Linked DNA regions of Homo sapiens. The protein of the gene in region 1 purifies or fractionates together with the protein of each later gene. This does not show direct contact. Each region holds a gene or a part of one and is shown in the gene's direction. Other genes may lie near its edges.

Region 1 (3,656 bases):
CCTGAGCATTTTATGCATGTATTTCAGCCAAGTGAGGTTTTAAGACTGCCTTTAAATCTCAACTCAGATGTTACCTCCTAAAAGATTTTTTTCAGCCTCCTGAGTTGGACCTTGTTACATCTGTATTCTCAGAGCATTTTAAACTTACTTTGTTTGTAGCATCACATTGTAATATAAAGAATTGTTTGAGTATCTCCTTTACCAGATTTTGAGCTCCTTGAATTAAAAAACTGTTTTTTCTTGTTCATTTCTGTGTCTCAAAGACACAGAATGAGGCTGCCTGATACACTGCCTCAAGTAAGCAAGTACTTGGTACAAAGGAGTTACAGCACATATGCATTTAATTTATGGGTTTACACTGTGTGCTTAATTAAAAGATAAATAATTGAAATAATCAGGCAGTTTCACTGGCTGTTGTACCCAGTGGGTGTATGCCTAAGATTGGGACAATATAAGAAGTATAAACTGTTGTTCCAGTATCTGTTCTCATATGCCTCTCAAAAGTAAACATCTCACCAGGCTTGAGTGCGTTTCTCCTGTTGAAGATAACTTTTCATAGCTTCATACCTCAAACACAAGCCAGCCACTCCCACTGACACTCATTCCAATGATGGAAGAAAAGCCAGCTGTGTTGGACTTGAGGGGTGGTGTATTAATCTCTAACATAGTGCTTTTCTAATGAACGATGAAGGATAATTTTGACTGGACTGAGTTTCACAATATATTATACACTGACTTCAGAACCTAACTCTCCCCCCCACACCCCCGCCAAGAAGAAGTCTTGCTGTGTCGCCCAGGCTGGAATGCAGTGGCGTGATCTTGGCTCACTGCAACCTCCGCCTCCCAGGTTCAAGTGATTCTCCTGCCTCAGTCTCCCAAGTAGCTGGGATTACAGGCATGTGCCACCACACCCAGCTCATTTTTGTATTTTCTGTAGAGACAGGGTTTCACCATGTCCAGGCTGGTCTTGAACTCCTGACCTCGTGATCCACACCCCTTGGCCTCCCAAAGTGCTGGGATTACAGGCGTGAGCCACCGCGTCCAGCCCTGAACCTCACTCTTTATATGAAAGATAGGAATGCTACTATACAGTTTTGTTAAATGAATGATCTGTCCTTTTTCTGCGTTTCTGTAATACTTTATTATTCAAATGACATTTTTGCTGCTTATTTCATAGCTGTTTACTTTTGTCTTATCCCACCAGTTAAAAAAACAGGAATCATGTCTTTATACCTCTTTGTATTTGGTATATTGCTTTTTATATAATACTCGTTTATAGAATGAATAGACATTTTATTTTATTATTTATTTATTTATTTATTTAAAGACAGAGTCTCGCCCTGTTGCCCGGGCTGGAGTGCAGTGGCGTGATCTCAGCTCCCTGCAGCCTCCACTTCCTGAGCTGAAGCAGTCCTCCAGGTTCAGCCTCTCCAGTACCTAGGACTATAGGCGTGTGCCACCACGCCTGGCTAATTTTTGTGTTTTTTTTTGTAGAGACAGAGTTTCACCATGTTGCCCAAGCTGGTCTCAAACTCCTGACCTCAAGTGATCTGCCCACCTCGGGTGGGTCCCAAAGTGCTGGGATTACAGGTGTGAGCCACTGCGCCCAGCATTAGACAGCTCACTGTACAGTGATCATAAACCTCAGTACCCTTTGCTAAATGTTCCCTCTCAGTTATCACTTTTCTCTCTTTCCCACAGCTCTTTCGACGTGTAGCAGCAGCTTTGCCGGGAATGGAAAGCACACAGGACAGAAGCAGAGAAGATAGTATCCTTTTTATTTCATTGGAAATTTTTCATTATTAACACTAGTCTTTAGAGCCCTGCTTGCTTGGCTAAAGAATATTGTGCCATTGCCTTTTACAACCAGGAACTGATGACTTAAAGGCATAGAAATTCATTTGTTTTCTATAGCAAATGAGGTCTGGTTATCCAAGTGCACCCTTTGCAGCCTGCTTCTCGTTGTTAATCAGTGAGAGGTTTTGTGTTTGTTTGCTTGCTTTTAAATGAGCAGGAAACTCTTAGAATCCCTGTGTCCTTGCCTCTTCATTTTGAGTCCCATTGACTCTAGGCTTTTTCCTCATGGAATATCAAATTTTCATTTCTTTTTCTAACACTTGAGCTTTCTACTTGACACAGGCAAGAAATAGAGTGGAGCTTTATTGTAGCCTCTGCTTTCAGAAACAGGACATAATATTAGTTCATTTCCAAGGATTGGGACATCTAATATTAGTTAATTCTAAGGATTTTTAATTTGATGTTTTCAGTGTTTCATATTCACCTTCTAGTGTATTTCCATATGCAGGCATTTTTATTAAGCCATATAGTTTGTAGCACTTTGTATTCAGCTCTTCCCACTTGTAAATGTTATATGTTTTCATAAAAAACATAAAACAGGCCGGGCGCGGTGGCTTATGCCTGTAATCCCAGCACTTTGGGAGGCCAAGGCAGGTGGATCACCTGAGGTCGGGAGTTCAAGACCAGCCTGACCAACATGGAGAAACCTTGTCTCTACTAAAAATAAAAAAATTACCTGGGCGTGATAGTGCACGCCTGTAATCCCAGCTACTAAGGAGGTTGAGGCAGGAGAATTGCTTGAACCCAGGAGGCAGAGGTTGCAGTGAGCCGAGATCACGCCATTGCACTCCAGCCTGGGCAACAGGATCGAAACTCCATTCCCCCCCCAAAAAAAAAAACACAACAACAACATAAAACATAATATGTTTCAAAAACAAAACAACAACAACAACAAAAAATGTTCTATTGAGTTGAAGTATGTCCCCGCGCCCACCGCCGTTTTTTTTTGAGATGGAGTCTCATTCTGTCGCCCAGGCTGGAGTGCAGCAGCGCAATCTCAGCTCACCACAACCTCTGCCTCCTGAATTCAAGTGATTCTCCTGCCTCAGCCTCCCAAGTAGCTGGGAATACAGGCATGAGCCACCATGCCCAGCTAATTTTTATATTTTTAGTAGAGATGGGGTTTCGCCATGTTGGCCAGGCTGGTCTTGAACTCCTGACCTCAGGTGTTCGGCCTGCCTCAACCTCCCAAAGTGTTGGGATTACAGGCATGAGCCACGGCACCCGGCCTGAAGTCCCATTATTTACTAAATGTTTCCTCTGCTGTTGGAACTATCTTGTAGGCTATTTTCAGATTTATATTATAGATGATTCTATGAGGAACATCATCTTCATATCACTTCTTGCCACTGTAGAATAAGTTCCTTAGGATAGATACCCATAAATAGAGCTTGTACCTCATTCTGACCCTTGTTGCATATAGTAGATATAAACAAGTTTATTCCATTTGAGCACCTTATATGGTGAGGCGGCTATGTAGAAAATAGTGAGTGTGTAGGCTCTGAAGACAGATAGGAATATAAGGGCCATCCCAGAAATGCTAGTGTTTGGAAGAATTGAAATTGTACTTTCCCATTTATGGCTTCTTAACTTTTGTTTCAGTGATTGACATAAAACTGGAAAAGCCTCAGGAGCAACCAGTCAGTGAAGGAGGCTGTTCCTGCTAATCTCCCATGTCATCTTCAACCTTCTTCAGAAGCTCACTGCTTTGGCCCCCTTACTCTTTCATTGACTGCAGTGTGAATATTGGCTTGAACCTTTTCCCTTCAGTAATAACGTATTGCAATTCATCATTGCTG
Region 2 (4,188 bases), on another chromosome or scaffold:
AGTGGCTCACACCTTTAATCCCAGCACTTTGAGAGACTGAAGAGTTCAAGACTAGCCTGGCAACATAGCAAGACCCCCGATTCCACAAAAAATTTAAAAAACTGGCCAGACATGATGATGTACACCTGTGGTTCCATCTACCTGGGAGGCTGAACTGGGAGAATTGTTGGTTCCAGCAGTTTGAGGCTGCAGTGAGCTATGATCATGCCACTGCATTCCAGCCTGTGACAGAGTGAGACCATGTCTCTAAAAAATAAAAAAATAAGTGAGAAAAAATACCAGGAAATACTAAACGGTGCCTGTATAAAATAGGCCCACAGTAAATATGTTTTATGATCTCTTCTAATTCTTTGTATTTCTTATTCCTAATATCCAAACTCTTGTTTTTTTTAATTTTAACTACCTGTGACACCAGAGAAAGCATTTAGTCACGCTATAATAATTTAGACACATATAATCTTCAAACTCTTATTTTTAACATTTAAGAACAATAATAATGATTTTATGTCTCCCTCTTCCCTTAGTTTTTTGGAAAAATTATTATTAGTTTTATTTTATAAAATGATATGTGAGAATATACAGTAACACTGAAGGCCTGCCAGTTGTAGGTTATGTTTAAAGTACTCAAAGAGAAAAGTAAAGTTCTGTGTGTTTATGCTTTCAAATTGGTGTGTTTTTAGAAATATCTGTAATTGCATTATATTGTAATTCAAAATTTCCTCATTTAAATATAACTTGAATTTTGTTTTATGTAAAATTGTAATGCCTCATGATTTTTACAAATAATTCCTTTCCTCATTGCTCCTAGGTGAAGTTGTGGTATGATAAAGTGGGACACCAGCTGATTGTAAATGTTCTGCAAGCAACAGATCTACCTGCTAGAGTAGATGGACGTCCTCGAAATCCCTATGTAAAAATGTATTTTCTTCCAGATAGAAGGTAGTGAATAATTTTAGAAAAAAAAAATCTTAAAATCTGTACTAATAGAAAAGGTAGAATTTTCTCTTTTGGGATGTTTTTAAAAAATATAATAGATAATTCTGAGGAGATAAAAGTACATTATCTCTGAAAAAAGAAGTCCCTCAAGTGTTGGAAATTGTGTTGGAAATATTTGAAAATAATCTGTCAATTAAAAAAATCTATTACCTTGTTTATAGGTATATTAGTCTTTGATAGCGACACATCATTTAGAATGTACCTTTGTATGTGTCCCTATAATTACAATACTGCTTATATTGTAACTGAAGTTAGAATATTATTAAACTCTATTATCTTTTTATAGACTTTCCATGAGTTATTAGTTAAAATAATATAAATATCAATGGCAGTTTTACATGTAACTACAGTAGATGGCAGCATGTACTTGCTTTTTCATTTACAAAACATACTTATTTTTCAGTGATAAAAGTAAAAGGAGGACCAAAACAGTAAAGAAAATACTAGAACCAAAATGGAATCAAACTTTTGTCTATTCACATGTACATCGTAGAGATTTTAGAGAACGAATGTTAGAAATAACTGTGTGGGACCAACCAAGAGTGCAAGAAGAAGAAAGTGAATTTCTTGGAGAGGTGATGTATATTTTAAAAACTCAAGTCAAATAGTTAATAAAGTTTTGTGATATTTATTATGATTACTATTACATTATGTTTTGATAAAGGTACTTGATTTAATTTGAGAATTACCCTCTCAGATCCTCATAGAATTGGAGACAGCGCTTTTAGATGATGAACCGCATTGGTATAAACTTCAGACACATGATGAGTCTTCACTACCTCTGCCTCAGCCATCACCTTTCATGCCAAGGCGACATATTCATGGAGAAAGCTCTAGCAAAAAGCTACAAAGTAGGTTAAGGTCCTTTTAGTTGCCACAAAGTAATTATGCTGTAATGATCTAATTAGTGATTAATAATTCAAGATGTTTTTTTTAAATGTTTTATTAGAGATCAAAATACTGGAAAATTGTTCATCTTTATGAAGCAACTTGGCAAAACTGTTTCTACATTTTCACAATGAAAATAATGTAGATAGCATAGCAGAGTAATTGCAGAGCTGCAAGCCAAAAACCTCTGAATTAAAATTCTTGCACAGGGCCAATTGAGCTGTTGGTTATTGACTGATGGAATAATTTCTGTCATCACTGGTGAGTTGCCACCTGTGAAGTCTTAATAACTTTATAGTTCAAAGATTTTTTCTCCCCCCACCGAGAGAGAGTCTCACTCTGTTGCCCAGGCTGGAGTGCATTGGCGTGATCTCGGCTCACTGCAACCTGCACCTCCCGGGTTTAAGCAATTCTCCTGCCTCAGCCACTGGAGTAGCTAGGATTACAGAAGTGCGCCACCATGCCTGGCTAATTTATTTTTGTATATTTAGTAGAGATGGGGTTTCACCATTTTGGCCAGCCTGATCTTGAACTCCTGACCTTGTGATCCATCCGGCTCGGCCTCCCAAAGTGCTGGGATTACAGGTGTGAGCCACCATGCCCAGCCAGTTCATAGATATTTTAATAGTTATTCATAAGAAATGTTGTTTAAAATATTAGAAGGTATGTTTATTGCTATTCATCTAGTGATTGGGAAAAGCTATTTTTTTCTGTACTTATTGAGTAATTTTTGTGTCATAACTACATTTCTAAGTTAACAGCTGAAAGAAGCCTCATTTTGGTAATCTGGAACTAAATTATTTTTCTCACATAATTAAATATTTCATGTTGATGCTTCCCTGATCAGTAATTTCCTCAAAGTTAATGTTTAATGAAGTATAATGACTAATTTGGGGAGCTAAACATAAATATTTTATAAAGGGCCCTGATGTTTTTTCATTAATATAGGCTGAATAGAGCTCCAGCCAAGAAATGTCTCTGAACCTTTCCACTCAGCCCTATTCTCTCTGAACTGCAGAGGAAAGCACTTAATTGTGTAGAAAACAATGTACTGTATATACTGTGCTGAAGGCTTTTAGTATAATATTTTAATTAAAGAATTAATCTGAAAATCTTATTCTGTGAAGTCCCCTTGTTTCTATATGTCTTTGGTGTAATGAGGAAAAAAATACTGATAAAATGTTATCCTTAGAGAACAAACATTTCTTTTAAAATTAGCTCAGTGTTTACTGTATTAGTCTTCATAAGTTTTCAGTAATAATGCAATTCACTTTTTAAAAAAAGTTTGACAGTGCTCTTTACGTTTCATAAACCAACCAGACACAGAAGTATCTCTTTGCCTTACTGTTGTGCAGGATCTCAGCGAATCAGTGATAGTGACATCTCAGATTATGAGGTTGATGATGGTATTGGCGTAGTTCCTCCAGGTGCGTGGGTGAGGAGCATGACCCTGCTTCACTGTGCTGCTTTGCTTGTTTTCTCTGTCAGCTTCCGGACCTCTTTAGGATACTAAACTGAAGATTTATAGCACAGAGAAATCAGTATTATATTATTCCATGGTGACTTACATTTCAAATTATTAAGAAAGTTTTAAATGGACTAGTCTCTACTAATTAGCATTCCCATAGTGAGGTTCTTCCGTAGAAACATGTCTAACTAGTGAAACAAATCATTATTTCACAATGCTCTGAGCGTAAGTGAAAATACGAATTTTATTTTGAAAAGATGGGGTTATTAAATAAAAATTCCATTTTTCTGTGTTTTATATTTGCATTTCTATGATTTTCCTTCCACCATTTCTGAAAATAATGTAGCCCTCCATGGAATATACTGAGAAAGGTGCATGGCGGGGTTTAAAATTGCATGTGGCATGGCTGTAACTTTTAAAGCTTTTGTGATGTGTTCCCACTGATTATACCTAGAATGTGTGTATATGTTTTAATACAATAATATGTTTAAGAAAGATTAAGTATTAATTTGAAGTGAACATCTCTTTGTCATTGTGTAAGTTAGTAAAACTTTTGTGATGTTGTAGGGTTTAAATGTTTCTCATCTGACTTCTGTCAGAAAAGTGTAAAATCAAGTGGTAAAGACTTACTTTCTTGGCACTAATTCTATACTTTTTAAAAATTTACTAATGAGAGGAGAAGTAAATATGCAAATAAGAAGAAATGAAAGAGACAGTCTTAAAATGTATAAATATGAATTTTAAAGGCAGTTTTTAAAGACAGTATATATATATATGCCCTTGATATATATGCCCTTTATTTACATAATTTCTCAGATGGCAGTGTACTTAATTTG
Region 3 (4,188 bases), on another chromosome or scaffold:
ATATACTTTTATGCCCATAAAACTTAAGTATGAATAATCCCCTGGCATCGTGTAGAATGTTTAATTTAGTTTAATAATGTTTCAGGGGGCGCCAGACTTCTATGTTTATGAAATCTGGCACTACCAAAAAACTCAAATACAGTCTAGAAACTCATTCTTACGTTCCTCATGAAATATACCGTGTCTAGGAAATACAGTTTATTTTTCTTTTTAGTTTAATCATCTTCCAGTACAAACTGTTGGTATATATTATATCATAATGGCTTACTTGCTCCATTTTTACTCCTTCTTTTTGGGAGTGACTTCCTAATTATGGAGGTAAGAGTGGCATAATATGGATAATTATTGAAACTAGATATGGGGTAAATAGTGGTTCATTATAATATTCTCTCCGCTTTGTAAGTGTTTGAAAAATAATTTAGGTATCAGCCATGATAGCAAAAGGTAGAGTACTATCACTGTAACATTGGGAGAACACAAGCATACATCACAATAAATGAAAAATATTGGACATTCTAACCATGTGTTTCTACTTCTGATATATTATCTGGCTCTAAACTAAAGATTTTTCTGGTAATTTTCTGATTTTAAAACTTTTATCTAGTTTAAGAATTTTTTTTAACACTTCTCACTCAGTAAACAGAAAAACCTATAAATCTGATGGGAGAAAGATTTGGAATTCATTTTATTGTATAGCTCCATTTTCCCTAATGTAGATAATAGCCAGACATCAGTATTATAAAGTATTTATAGATATTTTAAAGAGGAAGAAAAAGATGTGTGTTTTTTTTTTCAGATGCAAATTGTATTCATATGGTAGACAATGGGATTGTAGAAAAACTTATGGATTTACTGGACAGACATGTAGAAGATGGAAATGTAACAGTACAGCATGCAGCACTAAGTGCCCTCAGAAACCTGGCCATTCCAGGTAAGACTTAAGAATAGAAGGCAGCTGTGTACAAAATAAAATCCATCATTTGGGGAAGCTATTAACTGTATGTGATTTGTGAACCTGCTCTGATGAAGAAAATTTAAAAAAAAATAGTCTTCACATTGTTCACATTTTTTCATGCTAATAAATGGAGATCATATGTTAAATAAGTTTTGTGAGACTGTACAAGAATAATCTTTGCCTTCATTCAGATATCCTGTTACCTTTTGCGAACTGTTAGATTTTCATCATGTTTTATAGTTAAGCTTTTTTAAGTTTGAGATGGGGTCTCACTCTGTCAGCCAGGCTAGAGTGCAGTGACGCAGTCCTGGCTCACCACAGCCTCTACCTTCTGAGCTCAAGTTATCCTCCCACCTCAGCCTCCTGAGGAACAGGGACTACAGGCATGTGCCACCATGCCCAGCTGATTTTTTTTTTTTGTAGAAACAGGATCTCACTATGTTGCCTAGGCTGGTCTTGAACTCCTGGGCTCAAGCAGTCCACCCACCTTTGCCTCCTAAAGTGCTGGGATTACAGGTGAGAGCTACTGCACCAGGCCTTAGGCATCTTTAGTTGAGGTAGAATAATGACATCAATTAACAGAGTCCACTCAAGAATGACTTTCAGTTGTTGTTTTTCTATAAGCAGATGTACAATTTTTTTAAAATAGCCTTAATGTGCCTTTGGAAGTCATGAAATCACTGTATTATGGAAAATACAACAAAAGATAGTTAAAACTATTCTTTTATCCTACTTTCTAAAAATAAATTTCTGATTAGATGAAATAGTACAATTACATGATGATCCAATCCATTTGAATTCATTTGGTTTACATAGGATAGTAACATTTATTAATGTCTATAACATTTATATTAACACAGTTGGATCAAAAACGGAATTGTGCTTTTTGTTGTAAGAGGGTAACATTTTCAGATTTCCTTTACAAACTATGTAAGTAAGTGTTTTGGATTGGATCTAAAAAGCCATGATACTGTCATAAAAATTATTATATTGTCTGTTATCCGCTTATACACAAATAGGATACGGACACACACATAAACAACTGAATTCCATTCTTAAAATTGACAAAAAAGTGACAAGATTGTTTCTAAATGGAAAAATAAAACATGGATCTTAAAGATACTTAATAAACCTGTATTGAATTGAATGTTTATCAACAGGAATGCTAATACCATTTTAACCATAGTCTCTCTTTTTCTCCAGTTATAAATAAAGCAAAGATGTTATCAGCTGGGGTCACAGAGGCAGTTTTGAAATTTCTTAAATCTGAAATGCCTCCTGTTCAGTTCAAACTTCTGGGAACATTAAGAATGTTAATAGATGCACAAGGTAAAAGAAATGTTTTCCCCAACTTGCATTTTTCATATGATAGTCTTAATGTGCCTCTAGTTGAAAAAGGACTTGTTTTTAGCTTTTAGGATTATGTAATCATAAAAAATAGCAAATAAAAGATTTAAAAGTTGGTTTTGGAACTCCATTTGTTAATTTTTATGCTTGTTATAATTATTTATTTATACATATTATTTATTTATTTATTTATTTATTTATTTGTTTATTTATTTATTTTTGAGACAGAGTCTTGTTCTGTCACCCAGGCTGGAGTGCAGTGGTGCGACCTCAGCTCACCGCAACTTCCGCCTCCTGGGTTCAAGCAATTTTCCTGCCTCAGCCTCCTGAGTAGCTAGGATTACAGGCATGCTCCACAACTCCTGGCTAATTGTTTTGGAATTTCACTAGACATGGGGCTTGTTGCTCAGGCTGCTCTTGAACTCCTGGCCTCAAGCGATCCACCCACTTCAGCCTCCCAAAGTGCTGGGATTACAGGTGTGAGCCACCATGTCCAGCCTATAATTGACTTTAAATAGAAATTATACCATATCTCTCCTTATTAGTACTTATAGTCCTGGTTTTAGGTTGCTTTATTCATCAGTTTCGGCAGGGGGTGTTGTGTTTTGGCATTCTATACCCATTTTTACCTTGGCTTTGAAATCAAATTTCATTATTGTGACAGTCAAAAATTTTTTAAATTTGTCTTCCAGACAGGGAGAGCATTTTTCTGTTTGCAGAAACAGCAGTCAGAACCACTCCTAGGAATGAATTATGTTTATTTACTTATTTCTAAATTTTAAACCCTTTTCTATATTGATTGCATAGAGTCTTTCTAAGAACCCTGCATTATAGTCCGCCAGAGCACTAACAGACTAGCAGGCTTAACCAAAAGAGTATGAAGTCATTTGTTGTTGTATTTTCTATAAAATTTCACAGTGTTACAGAAGAAGGCAAATAGCCCATCACATAAGGAATATTTGCAGTTCTAGCTTTAATGAAATTGTCGTGCTGTGTTTTTTTAGACGTCCTTCACACTCTCAAATCTGTACGAATTATTTCAACTGATTGTCTGTTAGTGATTCATTCCTTGGTTTGCCTTCTTTCCTATAGCAGAAGCTGCTGAACAATTGGGAAAGAATGTTAAGTTAGTGGAGCGTTTGGTGGAATGGTGTGAAGCCAAAGATCATGCTGGTGTGATGGGGGAGTCAAACAGACTGCTGTCTGCCCTTATACGACACAGTAAATCAAAAGTAAGTTCCAGAGGAAACTGTTCACTAGAAAACTTCAGAGTGTCTTTTTCAGAAACCCAGCATTGTAGGTCCTAACAACTGGGATAATATTTACCTGAAAGTATTGTGAAGATTCAGTGAGATCATGTATATAATGTGCTTAGCTGATACATGGGATATAGGAAACACTCGGTAAATGGGGGTTGCTGTTGTTGCTGCTGCTATTGTTGTTATTACTTTTACCACCACCGTTATCAGCATCAGTGTCAAACATTCTTTGTGCCAGGCATTGACCATGCAGCCTACTGATATTTAGAAATTAAATGGTACCTAGATAGTATATGATGTCCAGAGCTCACAGAGTTAGAAAAAAATCCATTCTTGTGGCTGGCTGTGCCGCTGTCTGGCACATGGTAGATAACCAATAAATGAACAAATGAGCTATTTTAAAGATCACAATAGTGAGTACCCAGGCCAGCAGTTCAGCAGCTGATTTAGTATCTAGATTATATGATTTTTAAATTTTTTAAATACTGTTTTCTTGTTGGGCGTGGTGGCTGACACCTGTAATCCCAGCACTTTGGGAGACTGAGGTGGGCAGATCATGAGGTCAGGAGATCAAGACCATCCTGGATAACATAGTGAAACCCCGGGTCTACTAAAAATACAAAAAAA
Region 4 (4,188 bases), on another chromosome or scaffold:
GTAACATACTTTCTTTTTTATGTAATTAAGTTTTTGTTTTTTAAAATGAAAACAGACTTTTTCATTAGAAAAGTGAATCCCAGCCATCAGCTAGCTTTATTACTATTATCTAAAGACATAAACTAAAGCGAAGCAAAGGCAATCTATGTACTATTTATCTTTCTCAGTATTCCTTAATTATTAATAATTGTTTAAGTTAACCCTGGCTTTGCTAAGAATTGAGAATCTTTCATACCACTTACCACATTAGCTTCTCTGGGCTTTTGCTGTCTTGCTTGTAAAGAGAGAGAATTTAAGACTAAGATGATCTATAAAATTTTTTTTTTTTACCTCTAAAAAGCTTTTAACTTGATAGAATGTATCCACAGTCAGAAATCCTGAAATCCTTGAAGTGGTTTGCTTCTTGGTCTATGATGACTTCTCTATTGAAAGATCTCTGCTGTCTTTCAAGGGAAAGATCTCTTTTTGTTATCAGTTAGTAGCTATTGTATAAAGTTTTAAAGAGAGATATGGTGATTAAGAGCAAGTGTTTAAAGAGAGGCATGGTGATTTAGAGAGAGGTATTGTGATTAAGAGCAAGGATTCTGAAACCATACTGTATGGATTTAAATCACAGCTTTTCCACTTCCTAGCTGTGCAACCTTAGGTAAATTACTTAATCTTTCTGTGCTTTAGCTTCATCTGTAAAATGGGGATAGTAATACTGTCTTGTTGTGAGGATTAAATGAGTAAATATGAACTGCCTAGAATAGTAGCACTATTGGTTTATAACATGGGCTAAGTCTTTTCTAGCCTTTTATTTATTTATATAAATAATTTATATTTATACAAATAAATATTTTATTTATATAATTATAAAATAATTATTTTAACAATAATTATTAATATCACTAATTGTGATTTTTTTCCATCAATAGTGTACCGAGTAATTTTATTACATTGTTTTTTAAATCATTTGAGCTACTATTTTTGTTTTTTAACTTGAAACTAATTACCAATTTTATTCAGTTGTGAACACCAGCTTTTCCTTGATAATACACTTGACACATTTGAAACCAGAGTAAAGAGATGTAGAAATGTGTTATTTCTTCCTGGAAATAAAATGTATAGAGACGTTTCTTCATAATTTGAAAACAGTGACAGGTAGTAAGTCCTGACAGTGAAAAAAACCTCATTGTTTTTCCTTCTTTAGATCAAATTCTGTAGAGAAAGAGCAGCGTTTTCTGTATGAGTGTAAAAGGTTTCTCTATTCATGGTATGTAGTACTTATATTATCTTAGCATTCAAAATATAAAATCCAGATTATACAAATATAATTCTAGGATTTAAACTGTTGGCTTTGTTTTACCTCTAATGTGGACTCTTGGGATGTTACCTGACTTTATCCCCCCTCATAATCACTACTCATTTTTTTAGCTCAGTTCAAGTAGGATTCTACCAAATTGTCAACCCTTAATGAAAATTGTTGTCAGCCTATGCTTAGCTTTTTGTGTTTCCATACTTCCCAGTCAATGCTTTCTGACGGCTCAGCTTTTATGGAACGTTTCTGTTTTTTCCTTCCTAGGGTATTACTTATGACCATGTCGAATTAAATGTATACTTGAATGGAAAAAACATGCATTGTCCAGCATCAGGTATACGAGGGACAGTGTATCCAGTTGTTTATGGTAAGCAAAAATATTTCTAATGTATTATTACATACATATTAACTTGTTTGGTGTGTGTATCAGTCTGTTTTCATGCTGCTATAAAGACATACCCAAGACTTGGTAATTTATAAAGGAAAGAGGTTTAATTGACTCACAGTTCCACAGAGCTGGGGAGGCCTCAGGAAACTTACAATCATGGCGGAAGGGGAAGCAAACACATCCTTCTTCACATGGCAATAGGAAGGAGAAGATTGAGCGAAGTTGGGGAAAGCCCCTTATGAAACCATCAGATCTTGTGAAAACTCACTCACTTTTACAAGAACAGCATGAGTGTAACCACCCCCATGATTCAATTACCTCCCACTGGGTCCCTCCACAACACATGGGGATAATGGGAACTATAATTCAAGACGAGATTTGGGTGGGGACACAGCCAAACCATATCAGCGTGTATGTTACTTTTATAGCTATCATCTAGAAATCTGGACACATTGTTAATAAGGACCTTTTTATTTTATTTATTTATTTATTGTTTGAAACGGAGTGTCACTCTGTCACCCAGGCTGGAGTGCAGTGACACGATCTCAGCTCACTGCAGCCTCCGCCTCCTGGGTTCAAGCGATTCTCCTGCCTCAGCCTCCCGAGTAACTGGGATTACAGGTGCCTGCCACCACGCCTGGCTACTTTTTGTATTTTTAGTAGAGATGGGGTTTCACCATGTTGGCCAGGCTGGTCTTAAACTCCTGACCTCAGATGATCCACCCACCTCAACCTCCCAAAGTGCTGGGATTACAGGTATAAGTCACCGTGCCCAGCCATAAGGACCTTTTTATATGGATTGTAGTCGGTAGGATATTACAATCCCACTTTGCAGGATTAAGGATAGTTTCTGTTCCCCATGTATTAAAATAAACTTGCTAAATACAATGATTACACTTAAATATGCAATAACCGTACTCCCTTTTTCAACATGTAGTTTTATGTTTTAGAAAGTTTCAAAAAGCTTTACTGAATTTAGAAAACTTTTTCTGCAAGTCATTGGGAATGATTGCATGGCCAGGAAACATAATTATAAATAATATTTTGGAATTAGAGATGGGAATTTTATGTAGACTGTACATTAATAACCCTTACAAAATTCCTTAAATGTTAATGCTCTTCTGAGGGAAATAGTGACTTAGAATTTTAATTTTAACTTTAATTTTTTGTTTTTTTGTTTTGTTTTGTTTTGTTTTGTTTTGTTTTGCGACAGAGTCTTGCTGTGTCCCCCAGGCTGGAGTGCAGTGGCCCGATCACAGCTCACTGCAGCCTCAAACTCCTGGGTTCAAGCAATCCTCCCACCTCAGCCACCCCAGTAGCTGGGACTACAAGTGTGCACCACTATTGGGATTACAGGCATGAACCACTGCATCCGGCCTACCTTAATTTTTATTATAGAAAATTCCAAACATGTACAGAAGTAAAAAGAATAGTATAATAAACCCTCATATACCCATCAGCCAGCTTCAAACAATTATCAACTTGTAACCAATCGGGTTTCATCTACACCCCCCCACCCCCAATGCTGCTATTGTTCTTCACTTACCCTCCTTGGGTTATTTTGAGGCAAATGCCAGGTAATATATAATTTTATTCATAAATGTTTTATTTGTATCTCGAAAAAAAGGTCTCTTTCTTTTTTTTTTTTTAGAAAAACATAACCACAATGTCTTTATCAATCCATTCTGCTTTATTTTTTATACTATCAACTTTTTTTTTTTTTTTTTTTTGAGACAGAGTCTCACTCTGTCACCCAGACTGGAGTGCAGTGTTGTGATCTTGGCTCACTGCTGCCTCCGCCTCCTGGGTTCAAGATATTCTCGTGCCTCAGCCTCCAGAGTAGCTGGGATTACAGGTGTGTATCACCACACCCAGCTAACTTTTGGGGTTTTTTTGTATTGTTTTGTTTTTTTTGAGACAGAGTCTCATTCCATCGCCAGACTGGAGTGCAGTGGCACGATCTTGGCTCACTGAAACCTCCGCCTCCCAGGTTCAAGCGATTCTCCTGCCTCAGCCTCCCGAGTAGATGGGACTACAAGCACGCACCACCACACCCAGCTAATTTTTGTATTTTTAGTAGAGATGGGGTTTCACCATGTTGGCCAGGATGGTCTTGATCTCTTGACCTTCTGTTCTGCCCGCCTCGGCCTTCCAAAGTGCTGGGATTATAGGTGTGAGCACCTGGCCAACTTTTATATTTTTACTAGAGATGGGGTTTCACCATGTTGGCCAGGCTGATCTCGAACTCCTGAGCTCAAGTGATCTGCCCACCTCGGCCTCCCAAAGTGCTGAGATTATAGGCATGAGCCACCGTGTCCAGCCTATTTTGTATTATCAACTTTAAGTAAACAGGTATATGATTTTTCTGCCTTTGGTTTTGTAAGTCTAAAAATATTTTCTCATTTAAGTTCTTAAATTTGGGTTATAATAAGAACTAATTAGGACTGGCGTGGTGGCTCACACCTATAATCCCAACACTTTGGGAGGCCGAAGCCGGTGG
Region 5 (3,913 bases), about 60 Mb from region 1:
ACTTTAAATTCTGGAAGCCCAGAAAAAACGTGCAGTCAGGGTAAGCCTTATGTTTGGTGCCAGACACAGTAGAGCATTTACAGATGAAAACACAGAACAAGCTACTTCTTATTCCTTTCAAAGCGGTGTGTTTTCTTATCTTTAAAACAAATAACGTTAATTGGGCTTTTAGGATCATGGGTAGTAAAACAATGCATATTTATTCTAGGAGATTTGGAAAATAGAGTGAAATATGAAACTCACCCATAGCAGTGAGGCATTCCTTCCTCCAGCTATTCTGTTCCTCTTACACACACGTGTTTTGTTTTGTTTATGGAATTGTGATCTGTGCGTGCATTGTTTTATGACCTGTTTCCCTGCATTCTTAAGTCAGATGTAGTAGATGTAGTAGACAGCTTCCATGAACTTTTCTTTCCAACCTTTGCTTTCAGTGGCTTTATAGCATTGTGGCTGTGGAAATAACTGATTTATTACTATCCTGTTCTTTGAAATGTTGATTTTCAATTTTTCCATACAAATACTATCACAGTAAACATCCTTGTACATATAGCCTTGTATGTATGTAATCCTTGGGATTAATTCCCAGCAGTCAAAGGCCATGGATATTTAAAAACTTTGGATAGTGTCAAACTGTCCTCTATCACTTATGCCAAGTTAGACTCTTTTATTTTTTTGAATCCTAATGAGAATGGACATTTTTTCTCATGTTTATCATTTATTTGTATTTCTTCCTGAATTGCCTCTTTATAAGAAAATTGTAAACACTAGTGATTTTGACTTTACGTCTTGCAGATATGTTTTCTCATGTGGTTGTTTTGCTCTTCGTTATTGTTTGGGGGTATTTCTGGATAGCAGCACCTTTTCTGTTCTAGTGTCTTCATACAGTTTGGAGCAAGAGTCGAATGGCGAGATTGAGCACGTGACCAAGCGGGCCATCAGCACCCCCGAGAGTGAGTAACTGATCGGAACACGTGGGCTTCTCCTCAGTCTCTCCTGCATTCGTGATGTGTTTGCTAGAGTCGCAGTAAAACTCCTTCCGGTGCAGGATAGTTCTGATGGTCAGAACCATGAGTGCATTGCTGAGGTGGAGTATTTCACAGTGACCACGGTCGCTTGATCCATGAGCACTGACCGAGTATGTTGTTCCAGTGTCGTTACATTCAGTCAGTCAAACACCACAGTGGCCCGCGGAGCAGACAATGCCGTTGAGGCACAGGTAGGTTGGGTGACTGACCCAGTGGTGCCTTCTGGAGGCGGCCCTCCGTGTCTCTGGGCTGTCCGGGTGCACTGGGCGCTGCTGGGTGGGCCTGCTCCCAGGGCGGGCAGACGTCAGCACCAGCAGGTACCATGCACGCTCTGCAACTGCCAAGACCAGAGACCCGGGGACCCCTGCTCGGAGCCTGTGTCTCATTCCCCTCCATGTTTTTTCCTACTGTTTGTGCTTTTCCTTTGATTTCAAAACAGAGGTGAGTTAGGAGAGTTGAGTATTCTTTTCCTATTATCTTGTGTGATAGCTTCATATTGTGTCAAACCTCATAAAAACCATTATTTTGAGAAAACTCTTACAGGAAGAAGAAATGCTTCCTGTCCTAAATCTGTGGAGTAGTGGCTAGGCCCTGCCGCCGTGTCCCTGTGTGCCCCTCGCTCTGCGCCCGGCTGTGCACAGTGCCCTCAGCAAGCTGCATCCAGCCCCGCTCGTCCCTGGCCATTCCACTCCTCACTGTTTCCACAGACCACAGTGCCTGGAACCTGGGAGGTGTCAGAGATCTCCTCCCGGAGACTTCTGGGAGGGCAGAGCTGGGCGCTGAGCCCAGGCCTTCTGGTCCCAACTCTTGTGCCCCTTCTCCAGCCTGTCTCCTAGTCCTGACTGCAGGGGAAGATGAGAGCGTGCTAAGGTGCTCTTCCTGGTAACAGAGCAGCAAGGTGTCCTGCCGTTCGTTTAGTCACTGCTTCAGTCAGCTCATGTGTGTGGAGCACCTGCTGTATTCTAGCTACTTGCTTGTTTGGTTCTGTCACACTGATGCTGTGATCTCTTAGAATAGTTAACAGGTTAGAGGTAATTTTCATCCAGGTCCCCCTTTGAAGGGAGTTTATCCCACCCCCACCCTCAGACGACAACCGAATCATGACGGCATTTGTCATTAAAGGCAGTGGGTAATTTGGGATCCTGCGTCGTGGACAGGTGCGATGTTCTGTGTGTTAGAGCTTGCTGTGTGTTCGATGTTCCTGGCTCAGGAGTGCCAAGAGCTTCTATTTTGGCAGTGAGGTGCCATATGCTGAAGAAACGGGGAGAACGCATCTCATTTTCGTTGTGCTCATCCTGAGTCCCTGATGTCAGTGTTGGGTTGTTTCCTAGCAGCTCGTGTTTCTCCACAGGGCAGCCTGGCGTGGAGGGTTCATGCCGCCCTCATCTGCCTGTGTGGAGCCACGCTTTGTGCTGGAAATCAGGCGCCCGGTGTCATTGAGTTGGTAGAGTACTTGTTCTTGCTCCAGGCTCTTGGACATAATATTCCTGCTGATGCAGTCTCTGTCCGTCTCTCTTTATACTGAACCAGGAAGAAATGCCTGGAGGTCTCCCCTTCCTGGGAGAACTGTTAGATAGTTTAAAAGCACTCAGTTCTGTTTTCTCTGTGGTTTATACGTCCAGATTCTTTTTGGCAACTTTTAGTTTAGGTGGGGGAGACTGTCAGGAAGTGTCTCAGCTCTTCAAAGCTGGCAGGAAAGATGCCACCCAGTTCAGCACCAATTCACAGTGGCTTTGCTAAATGGAAATGAAAATTAGTCAATTTTCAGAGCGAGGATTTTAACTGAAAATCTGTGGGGGTTTTAGCAAGTCCCTGTTACTGTTACCATTCGGGTGGCACAGACGCTGCTGCCTTCGATTCTACGCACAGTGCATGGGGGACGTCAGAGCCCCCGCACCCGGGCTTCTGTAAAGATGGGAGACTAATTTCCTGGAGTGCATATGGGCTTCCAAACAGGAAGAGCAGTGTGTGTGTCAGGAAGGGAATTTCATGTGACAGCACAAGGAGAGACTTCACCGAAACAGAATAAGCAGATCTAGCAGTGATGAGGAATTCTCTACCATCGTCTATTAGTGACACTCAAGTAGCCATCGGGTACACAGCTGCAGTGCGCTGATGAGCTTTGAACTGTAAATGGGAAGACACAGTCCATACTCAAGACACCAAGTGGAGAACGGGGAGCGCTCTGAAGCTGCCTCCTCGCATGTGCTTGCAGAAGGGCAGCAGGTTCAGTGGTACCAGCAAGCAGCTGCCCAGCCCGTGCTGTTCCCGGGAGTGTGCTGGTGGCAGCTTATGCACTGGGTACAGCACCACCCAGGAGGGGCGAGGCTGCACCACCCAGGAGGGGCGAGGCTGCACCACCCAGGAGGGGCGAGGCTGCACCACCCAGGAGGGGTGAGGCTGCACCACCCGGGCCTCCAAGACAGGGTGGCATGTGTAGGCAGATGGGGCGGTGGGGGGGGGGGTGCAGAGAAGCATAATGTGCAGACAGGGCCTGCTGAGGAAGAGGACGCAGGAGGGTGGACGTGTTTGTGCACGCGTGCACCTGAGCCTAACAGGTGAGTCTGTAAAGGCAGCTTGGGACCAGCTGAGACTGAGGGTGGACTTCAGGCTCTCCTAGGAACACAGCGATTGAGGTGTCTTGAAGCAGGGCAGTAAATTTACCAGCTTCTTGATGAAACATAACTCCAGTGATGCAGGGATGATACTGCTAATAAATGACAGTGGCTGCTAACATCTCTTGAGCACTGCCCTTGCAGCCAGCACGATGCTAAGCACTCAACGTGGATAACCTCATGTAGTCCTGGCAGCCCCCCAATGAGGTAGCTATGTTTTTATACCCACTTAAGAGATGAAGAAACCTGAGGGTCTCAGAGCAGCTCACACAG

Evidence for each region.
Region 2: the proteins of RAB6A (region 1) and RIMS1 purify together in Homo sapiens (co-immunoprecipitation; one large-scale study listed by IntAct). This does not show direct contact.
Region 3: the proteins of RAB6A (region 1) and RAP1GDS1 purify together in Homo sapiens (co-immunoprecipitation; one large-scale study listed by IntAct). This does not show direct contact.
Region 4: the proteins of RAB6A (region 1) and SPRYD7 fractionate together in Homo sapiens (co-fractionation; one large-scale study listed by BioGRID). This does not show direct contact.
Region 5: the proteins of RAB6A (region 1) and NCAPD3 purify together in Homo sapiens (co-immunoprecipitation; one large-scale study listed by IntAct). This does not show direct contact.

Annotation. Positions count from the first base shown.
Region 1 is NC_000011.10:73,677,766-73,681,421, reverse strand, and holds part of RAB6A (ras-related protein Rab-6A), read left to right. Parts: intron 1-1,701; coding exon 1,702-1,768; intron 1,769-3,459; coding exon 3,460-3,524; 3' UTR 3,525-3,656. UniProt on the Homo sapiens protein: The small GTPases Rab are key regulators of intracellular membrane trafficking, from the formation of transport vesicles to their fusion with membranes.
Region 2 is NC_000006.12:72,249,522-72,253,709, forward strand, and holds part of RIMS1 (regulating synaptic membrane exocytosis protein 1), read left to right. Parts: intron 1-808; coding exon 809-939; intron 940-1,399; coding exon 1,400-1,571; intron 1,572-1,693; coding exon 1,694-1,847; intron 1,848-3,239; coding exon 3,240-3,311; intron 3,312-4,188. UniProt on the Homo sapiens protein: Rab effector involved in exocytosis. May act as scaffold protein that regulates neurotransmitter release at the active zone.
Region 3 is NC_000004.12:98,417,861-98,422,048, forward strand, and holds part of RAP1GDS1 (rap1 GTPase-GDP dissociation stimulator 1), read left to right. Parts: intron 1-796; coding exon 797-931; intron 932-2,158; coding exon 2,159-2,284; intron 2,285-3,394; coding exon 3,395-3,534; intron 3,535-4,188. UniProt on the Homo sapiens protein: Acts as a GEF (guanine nucleotide exchange factor) for the Rho family of small GTP-binding proteins (G proteins) that stimulates the dissociation of GDP to enable subsequent binding of GTP.
Region 4 is NC_000013.11:49,918,957-49,923,144, reverse strand, and holds part of SPRYD7 (SPRY domain-containing protein 7), read left to right. Parts: intron 1-1,564; coding exon 1,565-1,667; intron 1,668-4,188.
Region 5 is NC_000011.10:134,154,055-134,157,967, reverse strand, and holds part of NCAPD3 (condensin-2 complex subunit D3), read left to right. Parts: coding exon 1-40; intron 41-872; coding exon 873-950; intron 951-3,913.